3 linked regions of the Homo sapiens genome follow. Changing the gene in region 3 together with the main gene of any one other region gives a genetic interaction. Each region holds a gene or a part of one and is shown on either strand. Other genes may lie near its edges. The genes, in order: HILPDA, G0S2 and EPAS1.

What was found.
Region 1: of EPAS1 (region 3) and HILPDA, changing one suppresses a phenotype caused by changing the other (phenotypic suppression), as found in Homo sapiens cells (one study listed by BioGRID).
Region 2: of EPAS1 (region 3) and G0S2, changing one suppresses a phenotype caused by changing the other (phenotypic suppression), as found in Homo sapiens cells (one study listed by BioGRID).

What each region holds. Positions count from the first base shown.
Region 1 is NC_000007.14:128,450,151-128,458,877, reverse strand, and holds HILPDA (hypoxia-inducible lipid droplet-associated protein), read right to left. Parts: upstream 3,001-8,727; 5' UTR 2,855-3,000; intron 1,678-2,854; 5' UTR 1,610-1,677; coding exon 1,418-1,609; 3' UTR 460-1,417; downstream 1-459. UniProt on the Homo sapiens protein: Increases intracellular lipid accumulation. Stimulates expression of cytokines including IL6, MIF and VEGFA. Enhances cell growth and proliferation.
Region 2 is NC_000001.11:209,670,004-209,677,189, reverse strand, and holds G0S2 (G0/G1 switch protein 2), read right to left. Parts: upstream 1,779-7,186; 5' UTR 1,641-1,778; intron 1,538-1,640; 5' UTR 1,506-1,537; coding exon 1,194-1,505; 3' UTR 800-1,193; downstream 1-799. UniProt on the Homo sapiens protein: Promotes apoptosis by binding to BCL2, hence preventing the formation of protective BCL2-BAX heterodimers.
Region 3 is NC_000002.12:46,300,134-46,308,178, reverse strand, and holds part of EPAS1 (endothelial PAS domain-containing protein 1), read right to left. Parts: intron 1-8,045.

The sequences.
Region 1 (8,727 bases), on a different chromosome or scaffold from region 3:
TAGATCTGGGAGAGCAGATATAATCATCTGTGTGGTGTGGACACTTTACCAACTGACTTTGAGAACAATCTGAATTAAGCAGCCTTTTTGGTGGGTAAGTAAAACACGCTGAAGAGTACAAAAGAAAAAGCCCACAGCCTCCTGGACTGATAGTCCTCTTTGCCCCAGAGACTCAAGGAGAGGGGCTGGAAGTGGTGATCATTTTTCTTCTTCTTTACAGATCTAGTCATGACAGGCCTGCAATAATCGTGGCCTAGGCTCACATAACTGGTTGATACATGGCAGACCCAACTGCCTCTGCCCCCAAATTCAGAAGTCTACTGATACTATGTTTTAAACAAAGTGATTTAAGCACTTTCCTGCTCCAAAGTATTGAGATGTTAAAATTAAACCTCAGGTCTAGAAATTAAGACCCTCCCTACCACGAATTTCAAGAGCAGAAGTCAACATGACACACAGTAGAAATATATATTCCACTTTATTAGTTAGAAAAAATCATTTAAGCCACATGGTGGCCACAATGTCCATAACTTGAGCAGGCTTTGGCATCCCACCACCCCCTTCAGACCAATACACACTATGTTGGAGGAACGACTTTAAAATGTAAAATGAGAAATGGGCACTGAACACTCCATCCTCACTCCCAACAGCCCACCCACACAACCTCTTCAACTGCTATCCAAACATGGAGGAGCTCTTGTGGAAGAGAGGCTCAACACCAAATAATTGAGCATAAGACATTCAAGACTAAAGGAACCCCAGACAGATGTTTAGGAAGTAGGGTTGAAAATATCACCATCTCCCAACAGCTGAAGTTGGGACATCTAAGAGATGTCAGAGCCATACTGCTGAGGAAAGCACAGCATACACCAGACCCCGGGGTAAGGGCGAGATCAACCTATCTCATAGCCATAAGCAATCCACTCACACCTGTGCATTAAACAGGCTTTTTCTTTTCTTTTTTTTTTGAGATGGAGTCTTGCACTGTGGCCCAGGCTGGGTACAGCAGTGCGATCTCGGCTCACTGCAACCTCCGTCCCCGGGTTCAAGCAATTCTCCCGCCTCAGCCTCCCAAGGAGCTGGGATTACAGGCCTCTGCCACCACACCCAGCTAACTTTTGTATTTTTAGTAGAGATGGGGTTTCGCCATGTTGGCGAGGCTGGTCTCGAACTCCTGACCTCAGGTGATCCACCCACCTCAGCCTCCCAAAGTGCTAGGATTACAGGCATGAGCCACCGCAACCGGCCTAAACAGGCCTTGCCCAGGCAATGAGCATCCAGTTAGACAGGTTCTTCAAGGCCTAGTAATAGTTCTCTGGTTACAACGGTGCTCAGCTTGTCTGCTAGGAATGGGACTCCCATCTGGACATGTCTAGGTCAGTGTTCCAAAATATGGCCAGTATGGAAGGAGGTCTTATCACATGCTTCTGGATGGATGGTCTGGAAGGCCCTTGGTGGGCTCTGTGTTGGCTAGTTGGCTTCTGGTGGTCCAGGAGGTCCCAGGCGATGGGCTCTCTAGTAAGCCCTCTAGGGACTCCATCACTCTAACGAAGATGGAGAGTAGGGTCAGTACCACACCTAACAGGTAGAGGTTCAACACATGCTTCATGGCTGAAAGGACCCTACTCCTCTGCAGAGAAACAGAGCTGCCTTCTCCTTCTGAAAGGCCTCTGGACCCTGAGAAAAAAGAGGAAAGGATGAATCTATAGCCTTTTGGGGATATGCATGCATCCAGCCCTGACTCTTCTGTCCTCTCACAGGGCTGAAGGAGAGGCTTAGCCAGTGAGGGACACAGGGACCAGGGAGTTGCACAGCAACTCTCCAAGAATATTTTACATTGCAAACTTCATGGCTGCGGAGCCAGTGTTGCTTCTTGGACTAATTCAAGAACACTTCTTAAAACTTTTACTTTCTTAGGCCAGGCGCGGTGGCTCATACCTGTAATCCCAGCGCTCTGGGAGGCCGAGGCGGGTGGATCACCTGAGGTCAGGAATTCGAGACCAGCCTGACCAACATGGTGAAACCCTGTCTCTACTACAAATACAAAAATTAGCCGGGCATAGTGGCACATGCCTGTAATCCCAGCTACTCGGGAGGCTGAGGCAGAATTGCTTGAACCCGGGAGGCAGAGGTTGCAGTGAGCCAAGATCGCGCCATTGCACTCCAGCCTCGGCAACAAAAGCAAAACTCCGTCTCAAAAACAAACAAACAAACATTTACTTTATTGAAAATTTTGTTCCTGCAAGGCACAATACACAACCCCTGTGCTACAGTGCAGGCATCAGTCACCTTCCTGAAATAGGCCCAGTCCTTTTGCAGGGGGGTGGTGGGTAATGGGAAATATAAGAACATGCCCTGGAGAAAGGAACCTGCCTAGAAGTCTCTCCCACATCACAGATTGGAGTTAACTACAAACTTTTTGCAAGTCCAAATAACTCTATGAGGGTCAAATCTATCAAGTTCATTTATTTAACAAACATACCATGAATATCTGCAATGTGTTAGGTACCCTGGAAGATACTAGGGCCACATTGCAAACCTTATAGACAAAGGGTAGTTAACACGCAACACGCTAAGTGTTGGGACAGCAAGGAGATCGTGAAGGTGCTCTGGGAGGGCATGGCAGGGATGCCTAACTCAGCACCTGTGGGCGTGGGATGGGCCACGTGGATCCTAGTTAGGACCACCTTAGGACAAAACAGGGCTGACGGCTGAATGGGGACCCCAGATGGGGCGTGGGCGATCAGAGAGGATCCCGGCGGCGCACCCCCAGCCCTGGAACGCGAGGCTGCTAGCGCGGCGAGCACTCTAGCGATGGGGGTGGGGAGCCGGGGAAGCCCACAGGGCCGCTCACCTCCGGGGGAACAGCCGGGAGTGGATCGCCGGCTGTAGGAGCAGGTCGTGCAGGAGTCCGGAGGAAAGTCGGTTACTAAGCACCAGCGCAGAAGCTTCCCGCCACAAAACTCACCGGAGACAAAAGCGCCGTCAGCCGCAGAGCGCAGAGCAACGCCGCCCAGCCTCCGCCCCTTATAGCCGCGAGCACGCCCCAGGAGGGTACGCGCACGCGCACTGGAGGCCGCACGCACGCCCGGGACGCACACGACGTGGCGCACGTCCGCGGCCCCACCCCGCGGGCAACGGGGTTTGGGGATTGTCCCGGGTGCTCTCCCGCGGAGCTGTTTCCAAAAGTACACGTCGTGCGGTTTTGAGTCATTGTGTTCTGGAGTGAGACGAGGCGTGTGTATTAATCTCGACTGCCATCTCTGCTGTAGAAAACATTTGAAGGAGTCAGAGAGCACATATCCCTTCTCCCCAGTAGGTGAAAAACACCGATGGCCTTCGTGTCCGTGAAGCCCCGCCGTGAAGGGTGGGTTCTTCCCCAGAGATTTCGGGTGCACTAAATTGTCAGAGGGCACCAGACCCCTACCCCACTCGTTATTTTCTTCATTTCAAGGACTGAAGAGCTGGTTTTGTTTCACTTCATAGCTGTACCAAGATTCCAAATCCCGAGTTTCAGTTGCCATCGGTATCTCTGGAATGGTGAGGCCCTTGTGCAACATATTAAGCTCTGCAAGCTCTGCTTTCTATGAGAGTTTGTCGTGTCGCTTCAGAAAACGTGAAATACTCCTGGCCCTGGTGTGGGATCCTAACTGCATATGGGCAAGTCACTTGGTATTTAAATGGGCCTCGGTTTTCTCATCTGTAATGAAGACATTGGCCACTAGATGATTTTTCTTCTTCTTCTTCTTTTTTTTTTTTAAATAGAGACAGTCTCGCTATGTTGCCCAGGCTGGTCTCGAACTCCTGATCTCAAGCCATCCTCCCACCTCTGCCTCCCAAAGTGCTGGGGCTACAGGCGTGAGCCACCGCGCCCGGCCGCTAGATGATTTTTAAGGGTGCTTTCGGCTTGAACTAAAGAGCCAGGAGGTCACAGACCAGCCTTATGTCCAGATTTGGGGGGCTAGGCTGCCTTACTAATCACCCCCGAACCCACCCAGCCAAGACTGTGCGGTCTGTCTTGAGAGCACGCAACGGGGGATCTCAGAAAGTAGAGTCCCGGAGAGACACTGGGAATGGGGAGGACCCCCGGGAAGGGGTGTACACGCCGTGGAAGGGAAGGCCGCTGGTGGCTTTAGAACTGGCGGTTCCGTGTACCCGGGTCAAGTGCCCGTGCCGGATGGGAAAGAACCCTGTGACTTTCCACATCTCAGCGAGCTCGGCGGGCTCTGCTTAAGAAGGGCTCTAAGACGGGAAGGGAGGAGCCATCCCCACTGCGACCTTTCCCCTCCTTTCCTGGCTGGCTGGCTGTGGTCTGTCGGGAATGAGGGGGTGGGGAAGCCGGGAAAGCAGAAGGTTGGGGCTGGAGGTCTGCTGGCAGGCAGGCAGACATTTGGAGCCAACTTTCCTGCTCAGCCCGCAGAACTTTTGGTCCTTCGCTATACCAGAGTTTCGTCTGTTTTTTTGCTTGACTGTGTGACCCTTCTCTCACACTGTTATTAAATAGGTCTCAAGCTGCGAAATCACTGCCAGATCCAAACGCCACTACTTTGCCAGGTGAAGGCCTTGGGCGAACCCTTTAACCTTCTTGTAGTTCTGTTTCCTCAGCTGTTCTGTGAGATCATAACAGTCTTAACCTGATATTAAATGAATTAATCCATATAAAGCGCTTAGAACAATGCCTGGCACATAAAAAACATTCTATGAATCTTAACATTATCTGTATCATCAACTACAAAACTCCCAGTGAGGGGTTTTGCTCATTAGCAGCCTAGGCTTGCTGAATGAATGCAGGAATTCTACAATGACCATTTGAGTTCTACTTAGTTTGAGTTCTAAATTTATACTTCACACAGCTGGAAGAAGGGATGGGCACCTCTCCAACAATTCTTTCTCCCCATATTCCCTGCCATTGTCTAAAGGTCATGCCAGTTGGAAATAAGAAGGGTTTGGGTGAGGGCAGCTCTATGCTTTACCATTCTGTCAGCTACAAATGTAGCTACCTGCATCAGGATTTAGTCCTGCCTTCAACACCTTGGCCAGGCTAACTGACCCCTTTGAACTTTAGTTTCCTTATCTGTAAAATGAGGAAAATAATCTGTAAAACAGGGTTGTTGTGAGGGTTGGAAATAATGCCCATAAAGAGTATGTCATATATGCTCAACAAATAGTAGCTATTATTTTGCTAAAAAGTATAAAGCCAGATTCTTGTTCTAAATAAGCTTGTCACCTGGTTGAGTAAACAAGACCTGAATAAGATAAGATAACTAACAACCCAAGGCAGTGTGGGGTAGAGTTTAGAAGTAAGTACATAAGTAGGGTGGTAATGTTTTGCTTGGGGAACTGGGATTTTAACATTCACTATGGTTATTTAAAAAAAAAAAAAAAAAAGAGCTGGGCATGGTGGCTCACACCTGTAATCCCAGCACTTTGAGAGGCTGAGGCGGGCAGATCACCTGAGGTCAGGAGTTCGAGACCAGCCTGACCAACATGGACCAACATTCTCTACTAAAAATACAAAATTAGCCAGGCATGGTGGCGCATGCCTTTAATCCCAACTACTTGGGAGGCCGAGGCAGGAGAATCACCTGAACCTGGCAGGCAGAGGTTGCACTGAGCTGCGATCAGACCATTGCACTCCAGCCTGGGCAACAAGAGGGAAACTCCATCTCAAAAAAAAAAAAAAGAAGAAAGAAAGAGTGGAAACAAAATAAGCATTCTTCAAGTAACTGATACGTGCTGAACATTTTGCTAAATGCATTACATGTATTATTTAATTTTTCTAACGATGCTATGAGGTAGGTATTATTGCCTCTCTTCTTTATTTGTTGTTGTTGTTGAGAAAGGGTCTCACTTTGTTTTCCAGGCTGGAGTACAGTGGCACGATCACTGCTCACTGCAGCCTTGACTTTCTGGGCTCAAGCTATCCTACCACCTCAGCCTCCTAAGTAGCTGGGACTACAGTTACACACCACCACACCCAGCTAATTCTTTCTTTTTTCTTTCTTTGCCACCACCACACCAGCTAATTCTTTTCTTTTCTTTTCCTTTTCTTTCCTTTCTTTCTTTCTTTCTTTTTCTTTCTTTCTTTCTCTTTCTTTCTTTCTTTCTTTTTCTTTCTTTCTCCCTTTCTTCCCTTTCTTTCCTTTCTTTTCTTGCTTTTCTTTCTTTTTTTTTTGTAGAGATGGGGTCTCTCTATGCTGCCCTGACTGGTCTCAAACTCCTGACCTCAAGTGATCCACGTGCCTCAGCCTCACAAAGTGCTGGGATTACAGGTGTGAGCCACCATACCCAGCCTTCTTTATTTGTTAACTATGCTTTTTCTTCCAGAGGAAGAAGAGACTTTCTTCACCTAGTCTTTTACTCATCTTTCATATCTCAATTCAAACATATTTCCTCTGGTCACCCTTGCTGACCCTCGGACCCTGTTCCGGGCTCCAGTGGCATGATAGGCATTTCTTTCCCAGTGTGTTACTTTACCCTTAGTTGTATTAATGTCTGTGTCCTTTCAAAAGCCTGAAAATGTCAGTGAAAGGAGTGTTTGGTCTGATTTTGTTTCCATTCCATCTCCAGCAGCTAGCACCAAATAGTAGGCTTTTGATAAATATTTGTTGACTGAAGGAATAAATGAATGAATATTTTACCCAGCATCTTCAGTGAGTACCCATTGTTTCATCAAGGAAATGTAGATAAGGGCGCCAAGAGAAGCCGTTTTCAGGTGCTACCTCCTCCTTGGAGCTGCAACCAAGGAAAGCTTTTTATAAGCTGCCCTTCCCCCAAAGCCCCTAAAAAGAAGTGATTCTGAAGTCAACCCACACAAGAGTACCATACTAAGAACACAAGTATTTTCACAAATTTGATCTTATCATCAAGTGTTCATTTAAATAACATGTACTTACATTTCTGGTAAGTATAAACTGGTACATTCAGTATGGAAATCAATTTGTCAGTAATTGTTACCCTGACCCCCACTTGTTTTTTAAACACCTCAAGACCATTGAGGTGTTAAAAAAGACCACTGACTACCATTTGGCAATGTCTATAAAAATAAAAGCATACACATGCCCTTTAGCCCAGAATTCCACTTTTAGGATTTATCCTTCCACATGTAGAGAATGGAGTGTTTAAAGGTAGCACTGTTGCAGCACTGTTTGTGATAATGAAAGACTGGAAAAAACAGCCCATCAGTAGAGAACTGGTTAAATAAAAGATGGTGCATTCAGACAGTGAATTACCATAAAGCCAGAAAAAAGAGAGTAAGTTCTGTATATATCGACAAGATCTCCACAATATATTGTTAAATGAAAAGGGTTTATAGTATGTGAGCAGTATGCTACATTTATGTTAAAATGAACATAAAAAATAGAATACAATGAGACACCACCTCACACTCACTAGGATGGCTATAACACAAACAAGCAAAAAAACCCAGAAAAGAACAAATGTTGATGAAAATGTAGAAAAAACAGAACCCTCATACATTGCTGTTAGAATGTAAAATAGTGCAGCTGCTTTAGAATAGTTCCTCAAAAAGTTAAACATAGAGTTACTGTATGATCCAGCAGTTTAGCTCCTAAATATATACCCAAGTGAACCGAAGATGTATGTTCACACACAAACGCTTATACACAAATGTTCATAGCAGCATTATTCATAATAGCCAAAAAAGTAGAAACAACCCAAATGTCCGTCAACTGGCTAAAGGATAAACAAAATGTGATACAATGGAATATTATTCAGCCATAAAAAATGAAGTATTGATACATGCTACAATATGGATGCACCTTGAACACATTATGCTAAGTGAAAGAAACCAGAAACAAAAGGGTACATATCGTATGATTCCATTTATATGAAATGTCAGAATAGGCAAATCCAGGGCTGGGCGTAGTGGCTCCCACCTGTAAGCCCAGCACTTTGAGGATCCCAGCACAGAGACCAAGGTGGGCAGATCACTGGAGGTCAGGAGTTTGAGACCAGCCTGGCCAACATGGTGAAACCCTGTCTCTACCAAAAAGACAAAATTAGCCAGGCATGGTGGTGCTGACCTGTAGTCCCACCTACCTGGGAGGCTGAGACAGGAAAATCGCTTGAACCCAGGAGGCAGAGGTTGCAGTGAGCCGAGATCACACCACTGCACTCCAGCCTGGGCAACAGAGCAAGACTGTCTCAAAAAAAAAAAAAAGGCAAATCCACAGAGACAGAAAGTAGGTAAGTGGTTGCCAAGGGCTGGAGGAGAGGGGACTGGGGAATGACTGCTAGTGGGTACAGGGTGGTTTTTTTTTTGGTGTGTGGGCTGGTGATGAAATGTTCTAAAATTAGTGCTGACAGTTATACAAGTCTATGAATGTACTTAACCATTGAATTGTATCCTTTAAAACGGTGGATTTTGATATGTGAACTATATCTGAATAAAGTCATTATTTTCTTTAAAGGAGGGCAAGTTGAAGACATCGTCAGATGACAAACAAAAACAGAGTTAGCTGCCGTAGGCCCTTACCGTGGAAACTACTGAAGAATGAACCTAAGACACAAGAAAACTGAACCCAAAAGGAAATAGGGAAATGCAAGAAAAAATGGTAAGGAAATATTTACAAAACATATGGATGTATCTAAACAAATTATGACTACTCAAAACTATTTTTAGTAATAATGGTTGATTTAGAAAAGTAAAAATAACAAGATAAACTGAAAAATTGGTAAACATTTCAGATGGGAACAGTGAGCAAA
Region 2 (7,186 bases), on a different chromosome or scaffold from region 3:
AAGTGTCAGTACCTGATTAGGACAGGTGACATGAAAAATGTGAGGAGACTAGCATCAAGGCCATGCCTCTGGCTCCTGGCTACTTCTTTAAAGTTTAAAATTTGTTTTGCTGAGCCCTATAGAGTCACTGAATTAGCTATTACTACAGATGAAGCTCTGTACACTGGAGGAGGAGGACTCAGATATGTAACAACCGGTTTTTTTCTCTTTCTAGCCCAGAGTTTCTTACTATGATCTGGATTCGTGGGGAGGAAGGCTGGGTAGAGCTAGACTCATCATCTGCTTTGGTGTTCTTGGGAGCTTATCTCTTTTCCTGCCAGGTAGATAGTTTTTCCTTTCTTTCCTTCCCTTCACCTCCAGACCTCCCTCCTTCATTTTCTTTCCTTCTCTCTGTCTGTCTGTCTAAAATATAGTTGGGAAGAAAAAGGTATCAGCCATGGGAACCTCTGGTGCACAGGTGTAAGGAACAAAGAGCTTTTCTGCCTTAGAATTAATCAGTTATCTCCTACTCACTGTAGCTCAGAAGTTGATCTACCTTTTGATGTTAAAATGCTAAATCTCACGGAAGTTATAAAATTTTCTCTCTTCCCACCCCTAACAAGAAGGAAAAACAAGTCCTCAACAGACTTATATGCATGTAGTAACTTATTACACAGTTCCTAGGTGTGAAGCAAGTGTCTGACCCTCAGGAAGCTGCTCCCTCTGCAGTGCTCAGGTAAGAACCCATCACCATCGCCCACCTGCTCACCCTCCCTGCTTCCCACCCCAGGACACCACACCTCTCAGGAATTACATGAGATATGGTATAAAAAGTTTTTTTATTTCAAAATGCAAAATGGTGGTCATTGTAATAATTAATAATAATAACATAAAAAGCATTTATCCTTCCTCCCTAGTGCAAAATGGTAGACGCATTTAGATAATTCACACAGTGTTGGAAATGTCATGACAATGCAGTGCTGCACAGCAGCAAAACTCAATCCCAAACTCCTTTGGTGGATGCTTGTGGTAGGTCAGTTCTAGATGTCAGCGGTTTCTCTGAAGTTAAGTCCAAATAAAAAACAGCACGTGCTCCTGCACTCTCCCAGCGGAGTCAGGCTCCTGTGCGCGCGCCCCCTCTGTCTCTCCATTCCTCTCTCGGTCTGTCTCTGTCTACTGCGTCTCCCTCCCACTCCGCTGGTCTCCCACAGTTCCTAGGAGGCGTGCTGCCGGTTGGACAGGGCCCGGCCGCCGAGGACCGTGTCCTGCTGCTTGCCTTTCTCCTGCAGGGCTTGCTTCTGGAGAGCCTGTCGCTCCAGGGCGGCCTGCAGCTCCGCCACGGCTGCCTCCTGGTCCCGCAGACGTCTGGCGGCCGTGAAGGGGCTGCACACAGTCTCCATCAGGCCGAGCACCACGCCGAAGAGGGCCAGCACGCTGCCCAGCACGTACAGCTTCACCATCTTCCCCTTGCGCTTCTGGGCCATCATCTCCTTGGCCAGGGGGATCAGCTCCTGGACCGTTTCCATCTCGGCTCTGGGCTCTCGGAGGCGGGAATGACCTGCAGGAGGAGCAGCAGGAGAGGGGCTTCAGCCACCAAAGAACGGCTCCCACCACCCCGCACCCAGCTAATCTTGGGGAGGGCTCATAGAAAGGCGGACTACCTTAGTGGCACGGCGCGAGCAGGAGGCAGCGCGAGCTGCAGTTGGCAGCGGTCAGCGCGTCCGTTGGTCCGACCGACCTCAGCGTTCTCCTCCTCTCGGCAGCTGCAGCTCTCCCAGTTGGAGACTCCGCCGCTGGCACCGCTTTAGCGTCCGGGGGCCGCTTATATCTTTTCTCTGAGACACGCCTCCTGGGCTCTCCGGCCCAGGCCAGCGCGGTCAGAGCCAGGGGAACTCGGAGGGGGAGGAAGAAGAGGAGGGGAAAAGGAGGGGGTGGAACCCGGCTGGGACCTGGCAGGAGGTGGCCACGCGCTGAGCACGCTCCGACTGTGTGAGCTAGGGGGCCCGGCGCGGGTGCCATCGCAGCGGGGCGCGTGGGAAGGCCAGTGTGCACGCGAAGGTCCCACTCCAGGCGAGCGCAGGGGAGGACCCGGAGCCCAGGGAGGTGTCCGCGGACATCTCTGACATGGCGGCAACCTTCTTACTGGTGTCAGCGGGTGCACAGCTTCCCTTGTCCAGGACAGCCTGACATTATAAATAATGAGGGAATTTGGGGGTTCCATCTAAAGAAGAAAGCTTTCATTTTTATTCGGAAGGGTTGTCACCTTCCCACGTGTGTGGCAATGGATCAGAGAGGAGAAGGCAAGGGGGAAGGATCTGGGTAACAGGACAGAACAGGTTACGCTTGGATAAAGCAATATGTGCTAATATTGTTTCTTTCCTGCCTGGTTGGTTTTATTTAGAGGTACATGCATGTATAACTAGAGTCAGTTGATAGAAAACTATTCATTGATGGTGCTTTTATGCACAGAGGTGTGTGTGTGTGTGTGTGTGTGTGTGTGAGAGAGAGAGAGAGAGAGAGAGAGAGAGAGAAAGAGAGAGAGATTAGTCTCTTTGCCTGCGAGCTGTTTCCTTATGTACTTCCGTGTATCAGGGAAGAGCCTTCAAATTCAAATTGTTCTCACTTCCACTTGAGAAGTGGAGTTGGGAGCTTGGGGGTAGGGGGTCAAGTATGGAAGGGGCTGTTGGTAGAAGTTCATCTGCCATTTTAGAATGGAAGTATTTCATGCTCTCCTCAATAATTCTCTGCCACCCTCCTGGGTTTGGGGGTACAACTTCACTGCTCCAGCTCAACTTCAGCTTTGAAGCAGTTTGTGGGCAGAAGGGCGTGTAGTAGACAGCTTAGGTAAGAATCCAGAGTGTGAGTACTCTTGGACGTGTGAAGATGTAGGATTGATTTTGACCAGGGTTAGCTGTAATCACCTGGGGCTGAGGGAGCGTTCTAGTTTGGCTTTGGTTATGGATATGCTAGAGTTAGCAAACTTGGGGAAAAAGAGAGGCAAATTGGCCAAAGGGTTAGCAAACTTGGGGAAAAGGAGAGGCAAATTGGCCAAAGGCCTTTAAGCAGAGAAAGGGAGGGGGCAGGGGAAAGAAGGGGAAATCAAACTGGCCAGAAAATTGCAAAGGTCAGTGATGCAATCTTGCAACAGCCTTTGCAGTCGGTCGGACTGAGCCCTGAAGGGCGGGTCGGGGGAAAAGGCTGTCTCAGGGATCAAATATTTTAGTTTTTGAATTGTTAACAGTAATCTTTCTTTGGGGGTCTGAAGCAATTTCTCAGATGATTCAGTTTAAAAAGGCAGCAATAACAACTACCCTTTGCCTTGACTATTAATAGTTCAGGCAAGGGCTTGTGTGTGGAGAATGGTCAAGGTTATCTAAATAGCTTATTTGAAATTCTATGTTTTAGAATTTAGTCTGAGTGAAGGTGACCAGGGGCCAAATAGAATTGATTATTCCTGGAGGACTGTGTTTCCTGCTTATTGTTCTTTTAACCTTGTCAGGCAGGAAAATTCTGTAACAAGGGTTCCTGCCAAGTTTAATATCAGTCTTGGCATTTTCTTTGAATCTTCCTTATAGTTTCAGAGCAACCTCTGATAACTGGCAGAAATGATTAGTGAGCTTTCCCAATATCTGTGAGGGTTCCAAACCCATTGACTTCTGGAAGAGCATGTGATGTGTGCCCTGATATAAGGGCTGTCACGTGGTTTCCATTCTGAAGGTGAGTCAGCCTAGCTTGGGACCCAAAATTCTGAAATTGACTGGTCCAGTAAGCATTTCCTGTGTTTCTGTAACTCAGAGACGCAAACCACACGTCTTCCTAGGTCAGAAGGCTGTAATTTACCTGGGGTTCCCCTTTCCTGTGATTTGCTGTGTTAGTGCACATCACCAGCTCAGTTCCTTTTTTTGATAATTTGACTTTGACCTCCAGGTTCCAGCAGCTATATTGGTAAGAGCTGGACAGAGGAGGGGCAGCAAGTGCCATGGACGGAGGTCACTGGTAGACTTGATCTTCCTAGTTTAGGTGGTAGCTGGGGCTGAGCAGGAGATGATGGGAGTAGAAGGCTAAGGAATCCAGTGTTAACTCATGTCTAGGAATTTCTGAGTGCAGCTCCTCTGTCTGGGTGGGAAAAGAGAACCTGGCTCCTAGGGTAGAAGGTGACTAGGTAGGGCTTGGAAACTAAACATATATTTTAGTGGGGCTGATGTCATTTTTAGGGAAGTAAAGCACTGTGTTGTGTCATGCATGCAGGTAAGATACAGGTTATAGCGATGATGGTCAAACCAAGCCATAGGGTGACCAACCATCTTATTTTGCTCAGGGTTGAGGGGTTCTCTGAAATGCAGGACTCCTGCTAAAACTGAGCACTAAAACTGAGATACTTCCAGGCAAACTGAAACACTTCCAGGCAAACTGAAATAGTCATCCTACCCTTGAGTCTATCTCAACATTTAACTCTTGCCACTTCTAGGAAGGTAGGAAGGACTAGTTTAAAATTTTTATATTTTGCTTTCTAAATCCCTTTCTCTCAGACATTAAGACATTCAGAGCCATCTGCAGAGGGTAAAGTCACAAAGGGGTGCATGTGTTTCAAGGGTTAAGTGCAGAGGAGGGATAGAACTGTCCCTACCCCTCTGCCTTGGGGATTGAAGACACAGGGGAAAGAGGTCTTTTGGATGGTTAGTTGTAAATGAGCTTCAATAATAATTGTTATTGTTACAATTATTATAATATAATAATAACAATAATAATTATTATTTTGTTACCGGCTGCTTGCTGCCTACACAAAGTCACTGCCCACCCCTGGGGCTCCAGGCAGCTGAAGGGAGGGAGTCATCATAGGAGATATGACAAAACTATTTGTAGTTTTAAGACTACCGCACTAGAAATTTTTTTTAGACCCTTAGTTACTTTCATAGTTTTAGAAAGGAAGTTGCTTATCACTCGGATATCAGTGGAAGACACTGAAATTTATATGTGTAGCCACTGTCTCCTCTGGTCTTATAGACTAGAGTTCTAGAGTCTAAATATTTCTGTGTGGATACACTGCTATTATCACAGCTTGACACACTTAAAACAAGACTCCTTACCTTCTCTATACTCTTACAAGCTAAGTCTTCTTCTCAATATCCTTATTTCTAGCAGTGACATCTCCGTTTCATTTGTTCTCTGGGCTTGAAATATCATGGAAGTTATTTGGAGAGGCCTTCCCTGACTACTGCATCCCACCACTCTCCACCCAGTGCCCTACTTTCTTTTTCTTCATAGCACTTGGTTACCTGATTCTATGTGGATGTACTTAATGGTGTGGTTTTATATTGTCTTCCATGTGCGTTGGAGGATAGGCTTCATGAGGATAGGGACTTTGGTTTGCTCCTCACTGTGTCCCCAGTGCCCAGTATAATTCTTAGCACATAATAGGTCCTTAATGGGTAACTATGGGATTAATGAATGGCTTTTCCATGGACTGTGAAGCCTGGCAGGGAAGGGACTGTTTTTTGTTTGTTTGTTTGTTTGTTTTTGAATGCAGTCCAACTTTTAGTAGATGCTTAAAGAAGCATTCAGGTTTTTGAGGGGACAGTTTTTTTGCTTTTAATCCTTTCTCCTCTAATCCATCTTAAACACTACCACCAAATGAATCTTCCTAAAATTTAATTTTTTATTGTCAACTGCCTGTTTAAAGGCCAAGATCATTTCTCATTGCCCACATAATGGACTCCTGGATCCTGCATGTTGAATTTGCTTGATTTAGTATTCTTGGAATTCAGGCTCTCTATGGTCCGATCTTCTCCTGTTCTTCTCCCACAATAGCCCTTTGCTCCACAGAGAGGTTTCTTCACAGGCCAAGAAACAATTCATTCGCATTGCTGCTGCTTCATTTATTTTTGCTCACACAGTTGTTTCTACCTGAAATGCTGTCCTCTTTCTACTTTGTCTTCCTTTCTTCCTTGAGGTCAAGTTCAATTTCCTGTGCTCCAAGAAGCTACCACTGCCCATGGCAGCACACCTTGATCTCTCCTTTCTGTGAATTTCAGTTGCCTTTGGGGCTTGTACTCTACAGGCTGGCACTGGATGGATTACCGTTTTGTACAACTCTGTCATTGTTTCCTGTGGGCTTGCCTCAGCTCTGTGGAAGACAAAAGCTTTGTATCTTTCATGGTGTTAACATAGAATAGGAGGCTAATCAATATTAGTTACATTGACCTAAAAGTCAGTGCTGAGATAGAGAGGGCAAAGTGACCAGTTAAGGCTCTCTTGGGAAGTTATTTCAAGCACAGTAGCCTGTCCTTGGCTCAGAGCCTTGGTGTTGAAATTGCCCAAGACCTGGCAACTTGGCTTAGTTTCCTCCACTCTGGTCTCCTCACCTTTCACTTCCACTCCCAACTTAGTGTCTGACATTGTAGCCATTGGCTCACTCTGGGCACCCTCCAGCCTGCCCGTGGTACAAATCAAGGCAAAGGAACAGACTTTATAGGCATTCTGCTTTTGTCCTTCATAACTTTTGGTCAAGCAGAGCCACCAGCTGCTGGGGCATGCAGACTGTGCTGGAAGCCTTGAATAGCCATGGGTGGTGTGGTTAGAATTACCTGCACCCTGCTGCCTACATACCACTTCCAGATTAAACAATATACTTTACAAGTTTGAGTCAGCACAAGGAATTTTCCCCAAGCTCAAATGCCAATTGGTCTTAAGGGTATAGGGCTCTAAAGTCAAGCAAACCTGGGTTCCTCCAAATCCTGACTCCTCCATTTGCTAAGGCCTGACCTTGGGCAAGTGACTTAACTTCTATAACTTCTACTTCCGTATCTGTGAAGTGAGAGTTATGATAGCCCCTATTAAATGGGGTGTGGTGATGATGATAAGCCCCTATGAAACAGATATGATGAAGAGTGAATGAGATAGAGCTCTGTAAGGGACTTAGGCAGTTTCTGGCACAAATGAAGCAATCATTAAATGATGGCTGTTATTATTCAATTGTCTTTGCCTCTTGCTCTACGTCGGCAATTTCCATGATGCTTTATCCCAGCCCGGGACATTTGCATTCCTTAGGTGACATTTAGGTAGCTTCTAGTAAGGTCCAAAAATATTTGTTGAAGCCAGCCATGTACCTGACACTGTGTTAAGCATAGTTATAGGAAGCAGAATGTGTGATGGCTCACACCTGTAATCCCAGCACTTTGGGAGGACAAGACGGGCGGATCAGGAGGCT
Region 3 (8,045 bases):
AGCATCCAGATGGAGGAGCTAGTGTGAGGGAATAGAAGTGGGAATGAGTACTGCAGCACTGCCTTTGAGGCTGTGGGAGGAGGCTTGTGTATTAGGAACTCAGGAGGCACAGTGAATGATGGTGAATGGGCGATAGAGGTGAGGTGGGGTCCCTTGCAGTCAGCAAGGTGAACTCCCACTGCCATGGTGGCTGCCCTTGGGAAGAAAACTAGACCAAGGACCCATGTCTTTACTGAGGCCCTGAGTGTCTAGCTAATCTTTGGAGATCCCTAAGAGAAACCCAAATCCACAAAAGAAACCCCTATCCCACTCTGAAGATTCTCTGTGCTCCGAGGATAGGACAATCCCGCTGAGGAGGCCTAAAACAGCTGCAGGATCAGCACCATGTGGACCTCTTCTGGGGGACCAGGAAAGCGATCTCAGCAGCCAGGGTGCCTTCCAGTCAGTCGGCAGGGAAATGCACGGGGGCACTAATTTCCATGGAACTCTGGAAGACTCCAGAGAGTCAGGGGACCACACAGTGCCCAGCCACACAGACTAGGATTTCTTTAGATGTCTTGGCCATGACAAAGGCCCTTACCAAATGGGAGGCGCACATCAGCTGAGGCAAGACAAACAGAGTGATAGCAAGAAAGCCAGAAAACCAAGAAGAGCCTCAACTCCCATGCCCCACCCACCAATAATTCCCCCTAAGTCCCGGGTACAGAATAAAAGACAGACTCCCGCTGCACAACGATATGGTTACATTTATAGAAGCTCTCTTGTCACCAGTGAAATGTGACCTTCATACTTTCCTTATCTTAATATCTGGGTAAACATTTGTTGTGCAAGCACACAAATAAAGGTTCTAAAGGTGAAATGTGGTGTGTCCAGCAACACCACACTGCTCCAAACCCAGGCCCCAGAGAGTCCTTTTGGCTCTGCAGAGGACTTCTCTCTCCCTTCACCCTGGGCACCAAGGCACCAAAATTAGCTTCGTTGACCTCAGCCAGCTCTGGAGTGAACGCTGCCATTCGAAAATAGCATCTGAGAACTCTTGGAAACACAGGAGAGAAATACAAGGGTACAGTGGTTTACAGAAACTTACTGCGAAAGCAATCTCACTGGAGTGCTTTTTTAACTAAATACACAGGAAAGGGGCATTATGAGGATTTACTCCAATCTGTGGAAAGTGAATTATATGCTTCTAGCTCCCATCCTGATTAATTCTATTAAGTGTGATTGTTTTCATTTAGAAAAATATTGCAGAGGTAATGTTCATAAAGAGAGTTTGTCAAATGACCCATGCTTTGACCCAAAATTTTGCTGTACTAACTTGCACAGTCCTATTATTTCTAGACACTCTCTAAAAACATTGTGTCTCATTTCCCCATATATTTGATATATGTGATTTTTAAAATCTTGTCTTGAAATGCAGAAGGAAGGATTCTCAAGCAGTTCCTCAAAAGGCACAATTTTCTGTTGTTTCTATGTGGAATTCATAAACAAAGCCAAGTAACCGAGTTTTTATGTGTGCTTAAAGGCACTCTTTCCTGCAACTGTGTGTGACGTATTTTTCCAGGACAATCTTTCTCAATACTCCAAAGTGCTTCAGTAACAGGAAGTCATAAAGGTAGGAAGGAGGCCTGTAAATATTTGCTGTAATTGCTCATTAGTAATGAGAATGGCTGGCATTGAATTTTGAGTCACCCTTTTGTGCTCATGGCTCATTACCTTGTAACTGGAGCCCAAGGTGGTACATATGGGCTTTCCCTCACCATGGACAACCAGGTCCACTTCTAGGTTTTACTTCAGACAGTGTGGCTTGTTTCTCTCAGCACCTCCATTTCCCAAATATAAAGGAAGGAAAGCATGCTGGTCTTCTTGCTCCCTGCCCCCTAACCAGAGGCAGTCAGGAAAAAACTTATACAAAGTAGTGACAGTATGCAAAGTTTTTATCAAAAGTGAAATGTGTGTATTTTTTTAATACTATACTAATACAACATCGAGAGACAGATAAATACTGTCTGGGTAGACACACAGCACAATGATTTAAATGATTACCAAAAAATAATCATATACTTTAATGGATGTATTTTAAACAACTTATAAAATGCTTCTGAACTTTCTCAGATTCAGCTCATGTGTCCTCTTATTCATAACAAGCCACTGACTCCCCTTAGTCACAGGCCAGCATCAGGGCACCTCGGACTAAAAATGAGACCAAAACACTCAACCCGTTACAGAATTGATTAACTTCTAAGAATACTATTGGCTGTACCCCCTGCTTCTGGGGGCAGCCTACAGGGCAATGGGGGTTACCTTCAGCACCACAATCATGAGTACAACATAATGGATCCACTTTCCTGCCCACGTGTTTGATTACACGGCCTAACCAGATAAAATCACTAATTTGTTAAGATTGCTACCACTTATCTCTTAGTTTTTTTAATAGGAGAGTTCCATGGCTGGGGATGGGGGGATAGTTCAAGAAGTCACTAGGGGTGTATGAGACACTTCTAACAATCCACTTCCATGGCTTTATAGAATTCACAAAACGTCAGATGAGTACATGGCAAATAAACATATGTTTCAATGGGGTCATTTTTCTCATTGACAAGACACCCTTTCTGAAATATTTTTCCACATGAGAAAAGGATCTGTTCACAGGATCATTATCTGGCATGGAAATTACTTATAACTTTAAAACTGAGGAATCTTTCCAAGTTCGGGGGAGTGGGGGCAGTGGGAAATGTGCCTCCTGGAAACATGTGGAACTTCTGGCAGTGATGTCATCTAGTAAGAGTTTTGCTGACGTACAAGTGGCCCCTGCAAACAGCCTAAGGCAGTCAAGCAAACAGGTATTTCTTAAGAAATTAGAAAAAACAAGGTCACTTAGAAGTGGATAACATTCTTGTCCATTCCACACCTGACTCTTCAGCTCCAGGTATCTCACAAAGGGTCTCGCCACTCTTCTTCACTTTATGCTTTCATCAGATCAGTTATGGGGCTTCCAACAGTGGGAACAGACAAGGGTCACCAAATTACACCCAACATCTACTTGAAAATTACAGATGCTATTAGGGGCATCCCATGGATGACCACCACATCGACTGTGATGCACAGTTGCCAACACGGCTTGCTTCTCTCTTGATTAAGGTATGTGTCAATGCAATTCTGTTTGGCAGCACTAGAAAAACTCAAGGTACCCTCTAGGTTCACAGTGCAGGGGCCAACAGTGTGATGGCTGTTAAGGCTCAGGGCTCATCAGCGAAAGGGCTCTATAGAAATGCAACATGCTATTATCACAACAATCATAGCTATTCTTTATCCCCCTATCCATTCTTTCCTTCCTGTGCTTGCAATTTCAAAAGATCAAAAGAGCCACAGGAAGTCCTGTGCATCTTGATGGTTCTTCAGAAGCCACAGAGGAAGAGCTTCTAACAGGTTCTCCTGCACAATGGAGTCCGAAGGCTGAAGTAATTATTGAAGTCTTGCCACCAGCGAAGGGTGGGATGTGGAAAGCTTTGAATTTCTTGGGGCAGGAGAGAACCACCTCTTGTCAGGGTCTAGGAAAACCCATGAAAAATAAGAAATTCAAGGAGTTCCATGTTGGCCTTTCAGATCTTCAATCCCTATCTGCTTGTGAGGTTTGATGCAAGTGATAAATCACAAAAAAGAAAAGTAATTATAATTACAAGGAAAACAACAAAGGCAGTTGTCATTTATAGAGCACTTATTGTGAGTCAGAAGCAGTATTAAATACTTTATAGATATCTTCAGTAAGGGAAGGGCGTATGGAACACCCATTGAGAGTATAGACTCTGGGGACCTCCTTTACTCAGGTTGAATGCAGCTCTGCCCATGCTACCTATACGACCTTGGGCAGTTAGCCCTTCTAGACTTCAGCTTTCCCATCAATGAAGTGGGGATAATAACAGGGCTTATCTCACAGGATTAAAAAGTTAATCCATGTAAAGTTCTGAGGACGGCACTGGCACAAATAAGACTGTCAGTTTTTTGTGTTGTCCTGATGCAAAATATAATTTCTATTAAGACCACATACATTCCTAGAACATGAAGGTCATCCAAATAACTGTTTGAGGATGATGGAACATTTGAGGATAAATTTGTTTTCACAGTCATTTTTCAGAAGCATTAATAAAATGAATCATACCAGTATTTACCCTGTGCAGGGCACTTGGCTTCCCGTCCTTCCAAGACTGAGGGCAGACATGTAGGTGGACGGACACGCCAGCCAGGGACAGGGAAGATTAAGCGGCACCTCAGAACCTTTACTAAATACACACACCTTCCTCCTCCCCATTCTTCACCACAGGGAGAGGCAATGGCAGTAAAACACAAGAACTGTCTGGGATCTGAACAGGAAGACTCTGAAACATAAGACAGTCACCAAATCAGACATCCAAGAGCAAGGGCTTGCCTTTTCCATATCCTAGAACCTTTGAAAGGCTATGGAGAGCTGAACAGACTTCCTTTAGAACAAGTTGCTTCTATACATAATGTCTTGCACACATTTTCAGAGATTTACACGCCAGCCTCTGAAACCCATTCACAAAGCCTGGTTAAGAAGCTCCCTCTCCCTTCTTGGCCTTCCTGGAGTCATAGCTGTCTCCACTGATATTCTCAGGGGAACAGAAATTACTACCCCTGTTGTCTGTGGAGCCCCACCAGCTCCCTTTCCATGTCCCCACCCAAAGCAAGTGTATAAAGAACAGCAAACATTCCATTTCAGGGGCCTTCCTGTGTATGGTGTCGAAGTACATGATAAGGGATACACCATAGGGAGCCTTGTGTGTTTTCTTTCCTCTCGTTAGCCCTCAAAGACTGCCTTCTCCCATTTGACCTTCCTTCTGAGCCAGTCTTTAAGCTGGTGGTCAGCACCTACTCTGTGTGGTTCCGGGGACACTAGGAACAAATTTCTCCACCTCTAAATACACATAATACTCTTAAATAATTGTGTGTGCTTATGTGTGTGTTGGGGAGGGGGGCGGTTATTACCTGAAATGCTACTCAGAGCTTATCTTTTGCTTCAAAATATTAGATTTCTACAGAAAAGCATGTAGGCTGTCAGCTCTTTATATTTTCTTTCTTTTCTTTCTTTCTTTGACGTTGTCTCGCTCTGTCACCCACGCTGGAGTGCAGTGGCACGATCTCGGCTCACTGCAACCTCCGCCTCCCGGGTTCAAGCGATTCTCCTGCCTCAGCCTCTTGAGTAGCTGGGACTACAGGCATACGCCACCACGCCTGGCTAATTTTTTGTATTTTTAGTAGAGATGGGGTTTCACCATATTGGCCAGGCTGGTCTCAAACTCCTGACCTCGTGATCTGCCTGCCTCGGCCTCTCAAAGTGCTGGGATTACAGGCATGAGTTACCACGCCCAACCCCTTATATTTTTACTTAAGCTTCCTTGTATCTCTTTTTTTTTTTTTTTTTTTTTTTTCCTAATCAGACTAAGCAACTTGATGACCAGGACCATATCCCCTATTTCTTAGTATTCTCTTCAGCATTTTAGCCAGAGTAGGAGTCGGTGTTGAATACAAGTTTGTCATCTTATGGATTATATCTTAGGGTGAATATCAGAGCTGGTGTCCATCATGTGAACAGGCAGCATGGTACTGGTGGGGAGAGGGGTGGAAGTACAGAGTACTAGGGCCCCAGGAGCTAATATTGCTAACTTGACAATATTGGTAAAAGCTAGACCTGTTAAGAACTACCAGCAATGGTTAGTACTGAAAGCAAAAGGGAAGATTCATCAGGCTAAAATAAAAAGGGAAACTAGCAGGTTGGCATAGGGCAGAACCAAGGAAAACAAAACAAAACCCCCAAAAAACTACTAGATTTCCTGAAAAGTGGAAAAGCCTAAATCTCAAGACAATTAATGACAGCAAGTATTTTCAAATGTAGGAGCCTAAAATCCTGGAGCACTGAGAATTATCTAATTGTTTCCTTCCATTTCTAAACACTTTACTTAATAAATTCCTAGAAAGTTGAGAATCACCACTGCCCCCCCCCCCGACGCACGGGCACACACACACACACACACACACACACACACAGAGAGAAAGAGGGACATTCTAAGTAAATTAAACTGTTTAGTCTCACAGTTTTCACTCCTAGTGAAAATGCCAACTAACCCAGTACAAAAATCAATCTAGCAGCTGCTTGAATGTTCTCTACCTCAAAAAGCAATCTGCTCCACTGAGGAGCGGTCCTTGCATTGGTTTTGTTTAATGAGGTCTACCTATATAAGTAGATTTTTTTCTAACTAAAACAATGAATTCATACTTCTCAAAGTTTACAGACACTGGGAACAGCATCAATTCAACTCTGCTTCCTTTTTTTTTTTTTTTCAAAAAGCAAACAGAATCATCACTTCTACTGCAGCCTAAAGGTGTTGATAATTATCCAGAAAAGCAAATCTCCTTTCTATAAGGTTCAGCGGTTTGAGAGTTGTGATGGGGAAGGCACTCCTTCGGAAATCATCCTCACTATCTAGAGATATTTCAGGGCTGGGGTACTCTCCTGTGAACAATAGGAAAATACATACTTAATTGAAAGTAATAAACCAGGGTTCTGACTTTTTTTTTTTTTTTTTTCTTTGAGACGGAATTTCACTCTTGCCCAGGCTGGAGTGCAGCAGCGCTATCTCCGCTCACTGCAGCCTCTACCTCCCGGGTTCAAGCAATTCTCCTGCCTCAGCCTCCAGAATAGCTGGGATTACAGGCACCCACCACCACGCCCGGCTAATTTTTTTGTGTTTTTAATAGAGACGGGGTTTCACCATGTTGACCAGGCTGGTCTTGAACTCCTGACCTCAGGTGATCCGCAGCCTCAGCCTCCCAAAGTGCTGGGATTACAGGCATGAGCCACCGCGACCAGCCCTGACTCTTATCAGCACTAATTTTCCTTGTGACCGGAGAAGTCTTTTAACCTCTCTCGGCATCAGTTTCCTTATCCAGAAAGAGAAAAGTCTGACTAGATGATTTCCATGGTCTCTTATAAAATAATTCTAGGCTCCCTATAAGCACCACTGAAAAAAACTTGAAATGATGGCATTCTTTTGAACTTCATGAAAACTGTATGAATTAAAACTTAAATACTCAAGCCAACAATGTGTTACATCAATTCTGTATCATCCTGCGCTGCTGGTAATACAATGGAAACATATCAAGTGTGGAGGGAATATTTATTTAAAATATATGTTTAAATTGAGAGAAACTGTCCAGCAATATTTTTTCCCTTCAGAGTTGGAATAATGATGGAGTTTGATTTGATTTTAGAAGAGGAACAACTAAGTCCAGCTGTCAGAAGGAGGGGGAGATTGGAGATCCAGGTGTCTCCAATTCCCCTTCCACGCTAGCCCTGTACTGAGCACTACTGTATAAGCACTCTGGGAAGGTGTCTGGACCTAGGTCTGGCTTTGGGACTGGACTTTGATCCCTGATTATCCAAGGATCTCATTTACATTTGCCTGAACCACTCCTCAAACCCCGTGAATCCCAGAATTTCCACATTTTTTTCCCAGTGAAAGGACTCAGGCATTCCTGATAGATGCGTGCACAAAAAGGTGAGTGAAAGTGCAGTACCCCCACCCACCAGGCTTCAGTTTCTGACATCTGTGATGTCACCGCAAATGCCCACTACCACCAAAACTGGTACTATCAAGGACACCCAGCCAACTAACATTTAGAAAGCAAACTCTTTATTATTAAACATTAACATATTTATCGACGTGTGAACATTCTGGGACAAAATCATCTGCCCACTTCTTGACGGGCCATTGTTAGAACGAATATTCCAAATGTTCTGCCCATATTGCATTTGGGGGAAGAAACTGCTCTGCTAAACCAAAGAAACACAAAATGTAAGAACTAGTGGGCAGAATCATCAGCAGAGAGCCCCCTCACTGTCACATCGCCCTTGTGAGGCACTCAGAAAAGCTACAGCAGTCACTTACATGACAACACCAACTTTCAATGTATTGGTTCACATATTTTAATTACATCTTGGTCCCTAAAGAAGCCTGCAGCCAGCAAACAGA